Homo sapiens: one gene and its partner. The protein of the gene in region 1 purifies or fractionates together with the protein of each later gene. This does not show direct contact. Each region holds a gene or a part of one and is shown in the gene's direction. Other genes may lie near its edges.

What was found. The genes of interacting proteins can lie anywhere in the genome.
Region 2: the proteins of FFAR1 (region 1) and ACAD10 purify together in Homo sapiens (affinity purification with mass spectrometry; one large-scale study listed by BioGRID and IntAct). This does not show direct contact.

What each region holds. Positions count from the first base shown.
Region 1 is NC_000019.10:35,346,557-35,350,701, forward strand, and holds the start of FFAR1 (free fatty acid receptor 1), read left to right. Parts: upstream 1-1,345; 5' UTR 1,346-4,145. Other genes in the region: B-cell receptor CD22 isoform 1 precursor, read left to right, coding at 10-141.
Region 2 is NC_000012.12:111,748,553-111,752,052, forward strand, and holds part of ACAD10 (acyl-CoA dehydrogenase family member 10), read left to right. Parts: intron 1-620; coding exon 621-793; intron 794-3,500.

The sequences.
Region 1 (4,145 bases):
TTTTCTCAGGGCGACTATGAGAACGTCATTCCAGATTTTCCAGAAGATGAGGGGATTCATTACTCAGAGCTGATCCAGTTTGGGGTCGGGGAGCGGCCTCAGGCACAAGAAAATGTGGACTATGTGATCCTCAAACATTGACACTGGATGGGCTGCAGCAGAGGCACTGGGGGCAGCGGGGGCCAGGGAAGTCCCCGAGTTTCCCCAGACACCGCCACATGGCTTCCTCCTGCGCGCATGTGCGCACACACACACACACACGCACACACACACACACACACTCACTGCGGAGAACCTTGTGCCTGGCTCAGAGCCAGTCTTTTTGGTGAGGGTAACCCCAAACCTCCAAAACTCCTGCCCCTGTTCTCTTCCACTCTCCTTGCTACCCAGAAATCCATCTAAATACCTGCCCTGACATGCACACCTCCCCCTGCCCCCACCACGGCCACTGGCCATCTCCACCCCCAGCTGCTTGTGTCCCTCCTGGGATCTGCTCGTCATCATTTTTCCTTCCCTTCTCCATCTCTCTGGCCCTCTACCCCTGATCTGACATCCCCACTCACGAATATTATGCCCAGTTTCTGCCTCTGAGGGAAAGCCCAGAAAAGGACAGAAACGAAGTAGAAAGGGGCCCAGTCCTGGCCTGGCTTCTCCTTTGGAAGTGAGGCATTGCACGGGGAGACGTACGTATCAGCGGCCCCTTGACTCTGGGGACTCCGGGTTTGAGATGGACACACTGGTGTGGATTAACCTGCCAGGGAGACAGAGCTCACAATAAAAATGGCTCAGATGCCACTTCAAAGAACCAGTGAACTCTTTTCAGTCTGTGGAGTCAGAGTGGGGATGAGGAGAGGGGAAAGTCTTCATGGGGCCTGGGGGGAAGGAAATGGAGTCACAGTGGTTTACTGATCAAACCAGCAGATTAGAGAGTCTGGTGTCTTGTTAGGAAAAGCATACTGGCTTTGCAGACAGACAAACATGAGAACTTGAATCTTGATTCTTCGGCTTAACTAGCCCGGTGATCTTGGCAGGGCTCGCCAGCTTGCCTGAGTCTCGGCTTCTCCATCTGTAAAGTGGAGAGGGAAAGGCCACTGCCTACCACGCAGGTGGCCCACGATAGGAAGTGAGGCATCGTCTTCTATATGCTGGAGCCACATTGAGACCCAGCACAGAAGCCGAAAGTCCCCCAGAAAACCAACCTCCATCCTTTATTTGCATTTTTCGAAGAATGTGAAAAGGGGAAGCCGATTCAAAACAGCTCTTCCCAAAAGTGACGCTACCCAATTCTTGCACAACCCATAGCTGCCAGAGAAAGTCTTGAAGACCAGCCACCCTGAGAAACCTCACAGCTTTTCTGTCATTCGAGGTCCTCTGCACCCGTTCTCTAATTCTGTTCACTGATTCAGACTTTCCAGTTAGGTGCCCCAGCTCCCCTCTCCGCTTCTCGGGTTTGATCTTTCTCCACCCATTCACCTGCTTCTGCAAAGGGGCTAAAGCCCATTCTCCTTAGAGGGCAGGGGTGTAATTATCTGATCATCAGGGAGATTGGCTCCTGGCACGTGGCAGGTGTCCCCAAACTGCCACCTTCCTCTCCCACCTTCCTTTCCCTCCCATCTCTGCTCAGTACCCGGACGGTAACTCTAGGAATTATGGTTCAGGGAGGCCTTGATCGCCCCATCAATCCACTTTGTCCCTGGTTTGATTCTTGTGAGCACCATTAACTTTTCTGGAGGAAGGTGAGGCTTTAAGAACTGTTTAAAGCCCAGGCGTGGTGGATCACGCCTGTAATCACAGCACTCTGGGAGGCCAAGGTGGGCAGATCACCTGAGGTCAGGAGTTCAAGACCAGCCTAGCCAACATGGTAAAATCCTGTCTCTACCAAAAATACAAAAATTAGCTGAGCGTGGTGATTCACACCTGTAATCTCAGCTACTTGGGAGGCTGAGGCAGGAGAGTCGCTTGAACCTGGGAGGCGGAGGTAGCGGTGAGCCGAGATCACGCCACTGCACTCCAGCCTATGCAACAGAGTGAGACTCCGCCTCAAAACAACAACAACAAAAACTGTTTAAATGAGACAGGAGGGTGTTGGGGTGTCTGTGCCCAAAATGGGGTCTGGTGTCATTCAACTCTTTCTTCATTCATTCTGCACACAGATACTGAGCACCTGGAAATGCACCCAGTACAGAGCCAGTTGTTAGGACACCAAAAAGATAAGGCGTAGGACCAACCTTGGGGATCTCTAGTCGAGAGCCGCCAAGGGTTTTTAAGGCAAGATACCCTGGAGGGAGCTGAGGCAGTCCTAAGCCTGAAGGGCCTGGCTTAAGCTCCCTGGCAACCATCGAGCATCTTCCCCTTCCCACCCTGTCCCTCAGCACAGCTGCTGACATAAACCTACTACATGGCTGATTGACCATGAGATATGGCCATCAATAGACATTGCTGAGGCGTGAAGAGCAGGTGAAGAGCAGGTGGCCAGGAAGCTAGGGGGCCAGGACTCCAGACGCAGGCCGCCCTCCACAACCCCAGCTCTCACAGTCCTCCCAGGGTCCAGACAATGGATCGTGCATTTAGGTTCCCAAACACCTGCTGTGCAACGTGTAGTAGACAAAGCAGACCAAAGCCTTTGCCCTCAGGAGGCCGGCATTCTAGCTCAGGAGCCAGCCAAGACGATGTCGCACTGAAGAAAGACAACAAAAGTGAGATTCACAGGAGGGATGAGTGTGGCTGAGGCACCCGGGAAGGCCCTCGGAGAAGGTGACCTTGGGCAAAGATCCAGACGCCAGGTGGGTGGGGCCAAAGCAGAGAAGATCTGGAAAACCCAATGGCTCCCCAGGGCTTCGCTCTTGCTGCAGGAGGGGAAACCACACTGCTGTGGATTCTTCCTCCATTCTGTCCATTTCTCAGTTCCCAACAACACACTGAACAGTAGGAGGCCAGTTCTCCGCTCACAGCGGGCGCTGCACCCCAGGTGCTGCTCTCGAGAAAAAGGCGAGCATGGACCAATTTAGTGGCTCCGAGGTATGAAAAGCAGTGAGATGGTGTCTTTGAGGGAGTTAGTGATAGGCTGAGACCCCCTTGCTGTCCCCCCTGAAGCCTGGTGACCAGAGCTGCCAGGAGGCCACACAGAGAGAGGTTTATGATGGGGGACCTGGAATTCGGAAGGGGCAGAGTGGTCAGGTGACCCATACACGCCTGAGAAAACTGATGTGGAGAGCTGTGTTGTCATTCTGAGGCAGGAAATAGAGACAGACTGACAGACAGACAGAAAGACACGGGCACATTGAGAGACAGAGACAGAATCACAGAGCAGAGCTGGCTTCTCACCAGCAGGCGTGGGCACACCTGAGAGAGCATCCAGAGAGGTTAGAAATCTTCCTTAGGTCCTCCTGGGAGGCTCAGGTGACCCCAGTGGGAAACATGAAAGGCTGGGAGGACTTCCAGGGCTGAGAGAAGGAAGCTACGCAGCCGGCCGGTGCCACATTCCCTGTGCCTTGGGGAGTGTCCCCCAGTGTCCCCAGCCATGCACCCTGGGGGGAGTCGGCTTGGACATCTGTGCCACCCCTTGACAGGCAGAGTGGGGGCCACAACCTGGGCCCTCCAGTGCTGGTCAGCAGAGGCTGCCCCCGCCCCTTGCCTTCCTCCTCCCGCTCCTTCCTCCAGCCCTGGGAAGGTCGGAAGCCACCACCATGGGGCTAGTGCGGAAGCAGAGGGAGAACAGAGGGGCCCTCCTCGCAAAAACTAAAACAAGCCCACAGCCTGTGCAGAACCGCACCCGGGTGTGATCACTCCTTACCCCACACACCCACTGCCACTTGGAGATGGCTTCATGGCTGCAGTCACAGGGCACCCTGTGTTGTCAGGGGTGAGCCAGTGAGGCCCGGGACCTGCCCAGGGGTGCATCAAGGGTGGAGAAGACCTGGCCCCAGCGCAGGTGTGAACAGGCAGGAGGGCTGGGGAGGGAATAGCGCTGGGTTGTGGCCGAGCCCCCAAGCCCTGCTCTTGAGAGGCACTGGCTACACACTCGGCCCCTACCCAGACAGGACCCCAATTCCTCCCTGGCCCCTCTGTGTTCCTGCATCTTCCCAGCCCCTCACCTCCTCTGGCGTGGCCTCACCTCCAGCCGGGATGCCCCATTAGCTGCTCAC
Region 2 (3,500 bases), on another chromosome or scaffold:
GTTCAGGACTTGCCACATCCCACGTCTGAGGGTATGATGACATTTGGAGTCACATGCTCCTGCATTTCATTTCCATACATGAATATCAACCATGCAGGCGGATTTCAGACAGGCATTTATGGATTTTTTTCCCTCTTCTAAACTTAGAAAGTAATCAGGAGTCTGTGACACAGGAAGCCATACAGGGCAGACGCAGGAAGTGGACCCCAAACCTACTCTTCCAGGCCCCAGTGTGAACAGCTGACCTCTAGGCCACAGCCCTGGTTTGGTCCGCTCCCAGTTTGGTTCTCTGCTAATAGTGTTCACATTTTTACTTTCAGTGTTTTCATAGGATCACTACATTGTCACAAACCACTAGGAGCTTCAGCTTAAGGTGGCATTATTATGTTTTTATAAAAGGAATCACAGAATAGTCATTTGCCATTATAAATCAGTGATTCATTTTCTGTGTTTAACAGGCTGTTTCCTGCCGTCCTTTTCCCTTTAACCATGTCCCAGTAAGAAGGCTAAATAAAGGGCAGGGACATTGCCAGCAGATAACCCAGACTGAGGTGAGGAATAAACACATCCAAGGAAAATGACTATGGCTATTGCTCACAGTGATCGTTTGGGTCTTTCAGGTGGCCATGGTGAAGTCCGATTTGAGCACGTGCGTGTGCCCAAAGAGAACATGGTCCTGGGCCCTGGCCGAGGCTTTGAGATCGCCCAGGGCAGACTGGGCCCCGGCAGGATCCATCACTGCATGAGGCTGATCGGGTTCTCAGAGAGGGCCCTGGCACTCATGAAGGCCCGCGTGAGTGCTTTCCCCCGCACCCAGCACTGACTCAGAACCACCACCTTCTGCTTTGCTGTCGGACTTCAATTCCTACCTGTTTTCTGAGTGCAGTCCTAGCAGGTGAAGCAAGGTGATGTCCTTGCCAAGAAGTTGCATTCCTGTCTGCTTTGCATCTGCTACTTTGCTGCAGTTTGGATTCAGAGCAGAATGGACCCCACTCTGTCGAGGTGACCTGAAGGGAAACGCCAGGCTCTGTAGCAGCAGAGGCAAGGTTCCAAGGTGTAAAGGTCATGCTGCTAGCACATTATTAAAAATCAGTCTGGGTGCAATGGCTCACAGCTATAATCCCAGTACTTTGGGAGGTCTAGGTAGGAGGGTTGCTTGAAGCCAAGCATTTGAGACCAGCCTAGGCGAAAAAGAGAGACTCAGTCTCTACAAAAAAAAAAAAAATTTTTTTTTTTTTTTTGAGATGGAGTCTTGCTCTGTCACCAGGCTGGAGTTCAGTGGTGTGATCTCGGCTCACTGCAACCTCCACCTCCCGGGTTCAAGCAATTCTCCTGCCTTAGCCTCCCAAGTAGTTGGGACTACAGGCACGTGCCACCACGCCCAGCTAATTTTTGTATTTTTAGTAGAGACAGGGTTTCACCATGTTGGCCAGGAAGGTCTCGATCCCTTGACCTCGTGATCTGCCCGCCTCGGGCTCCCAAAATGCTGGGATTACAGGTGTGAGCCACCGTGCCCGGCAAAAAAAAGAAAAAGTTTTTTTTGTTTTTTTTTTTTTTGAGACGGAATCTCACTCTGTTGCCTAGGCTGGAGTGCAGTGGCGCGATCTTGGCTCACTGCAACCTCTGCCTACTGGGTTCACACCATTCTCTTGCCTCAGCCTCCCGAGTAGCTGGGACTACAGGCACCCGCCACCATGCCTGGCTAATTTTTTGTATTTTTAGTAGAGATGGGGTTTCACCATGTTAGCCAGGATGGTTTCGATCTCACCGTGTTAGCCAGGATGGTCTCGATCTCCTGACCTCATGATCCGCCCACCTCAGCCTCCCAATGTGCTGGGATTACCGGCGTGAGCCACCGTGCCTGGCCAAAAAGAAAAAGTTTTAAGTGCCAGGCATGGTAGCATGTGTCTCTAGTCCCAGCTACTCAGGAGGCTGAGGCAGAAGGATCGCTTGAGCCCAGGAGTTTAGGGCTGCAGTGAGCAGTGATCACACCACTGCACTCCAGCCTGGGTGACAGAGTGAGACCCTGTCTCTTTAAAAATAAATAAATAAATAAAAATCAGACACCAGGGAGATCCCATGTTGCTTGTTTTTGTCCCTAGGCTTCCATCATCTGGCCTGTACCACCCTCCTCCACAGCACATCCAGAAAACTTTATTCGGCCATAATCCTACCACCCCCAAAGTTTGGAAACCTAGGTTAAAAGACAGCTGCTTCCAGGACAGGAATTCAAATTGGTGATTATCAATTTCAGAAAGGTGACGCAAACCCTGAGACCAAAACCAGTGTCTCACAAGAACTGCTATTGAAAGAACAGAGGCAGTCTGAATTTTTTATTACCGAGCAAACCTGTGATTTACACCCTTTTGAGTTAAGACTGACCAGTTATTTTTTCTTTCTAAGTAAAACGCTCCTGTCTATGGACTCAGGTATGGTGCTTCAGCCCCACATGGAATTAAATTCAGCCTTCTGGCAGAATAATTGGACTGAATGAGTCAGACAGAAGTCTCCAGAAAGTGCATAGCATGAACATGGCACCTCCACTGAAGACTTGGTTGGAGTAATTAGGAATCTACAAAAGATTTGCTACAAGGAGGTTCACCACAGTGCTTATTGAAATAGCAAAATTCTGAACAACCTATAAGGCTAACAATGACTGTTGGCCAAATAAAACACAAGATGGCATACAGTGAGACTTTAAATGATGCTGTGGAAATCTATTCCTTAACATGGAGAAATTGCTCACTATATACACTTAAATTTAAAAAAAAAGACTGTGGCCAGGTGTGGTGACACTCCCAGCACTCTGAGAGGCCGAGGCAGGCAGATTGCTTGAGCCCAGGAATTTGAAACTAGCCTGGGCAATACGGCAAAACCTCATCTCTATAAAAAATAAGGCTGGGCGCGGTGGCTAACGCCTGTAATCTCAGCACTTTGGGAGGCTGAGGTGGGCGGATCACTTCAGGTTAGGAGTTTAAGACCAGCCTCGCCAACATGGTGATACCCCGTCTCTACTAAAAATACAGAAGTTAGCTGGGCATGGTGGCACATGCCTGTAATCCCAGCTACTTGGGAGGCTGAGGCAGGAGGATCACTTGAATCCAGGAGGCGGAGGTTGCACTGAGCTGAGATTGCACCACTGCACTCTAGCCGGAGTGACAAAGCAAGACTCCATCTCAAAAAAAAAAATTAAAATTAAAAAATTAAAAATAGTAGCCAGGTGGGGCTGGGTGTGGTGGCTCATACCTGTAATTCCAGCACTTTGGGAGGCCGAGGTGGGCAGATCACCTGAGGTCGGGAGTTCGAGTCCAGCCTGACCAACATAGAGAAACCCTGTCTCTACTAAAAATATAAAATTAGTTGGACGTGGTGGCGCATGCCTGTAATCCCAGCTACTTGGGAGGCTGAGGCAGGAGAATCGCCTGAACCCGGGAGGTGGAGGTTGCGGTGAGCCGAGATCGCACCATTGCACTCCAGCCTGGGCAACAAGAGCGATACTC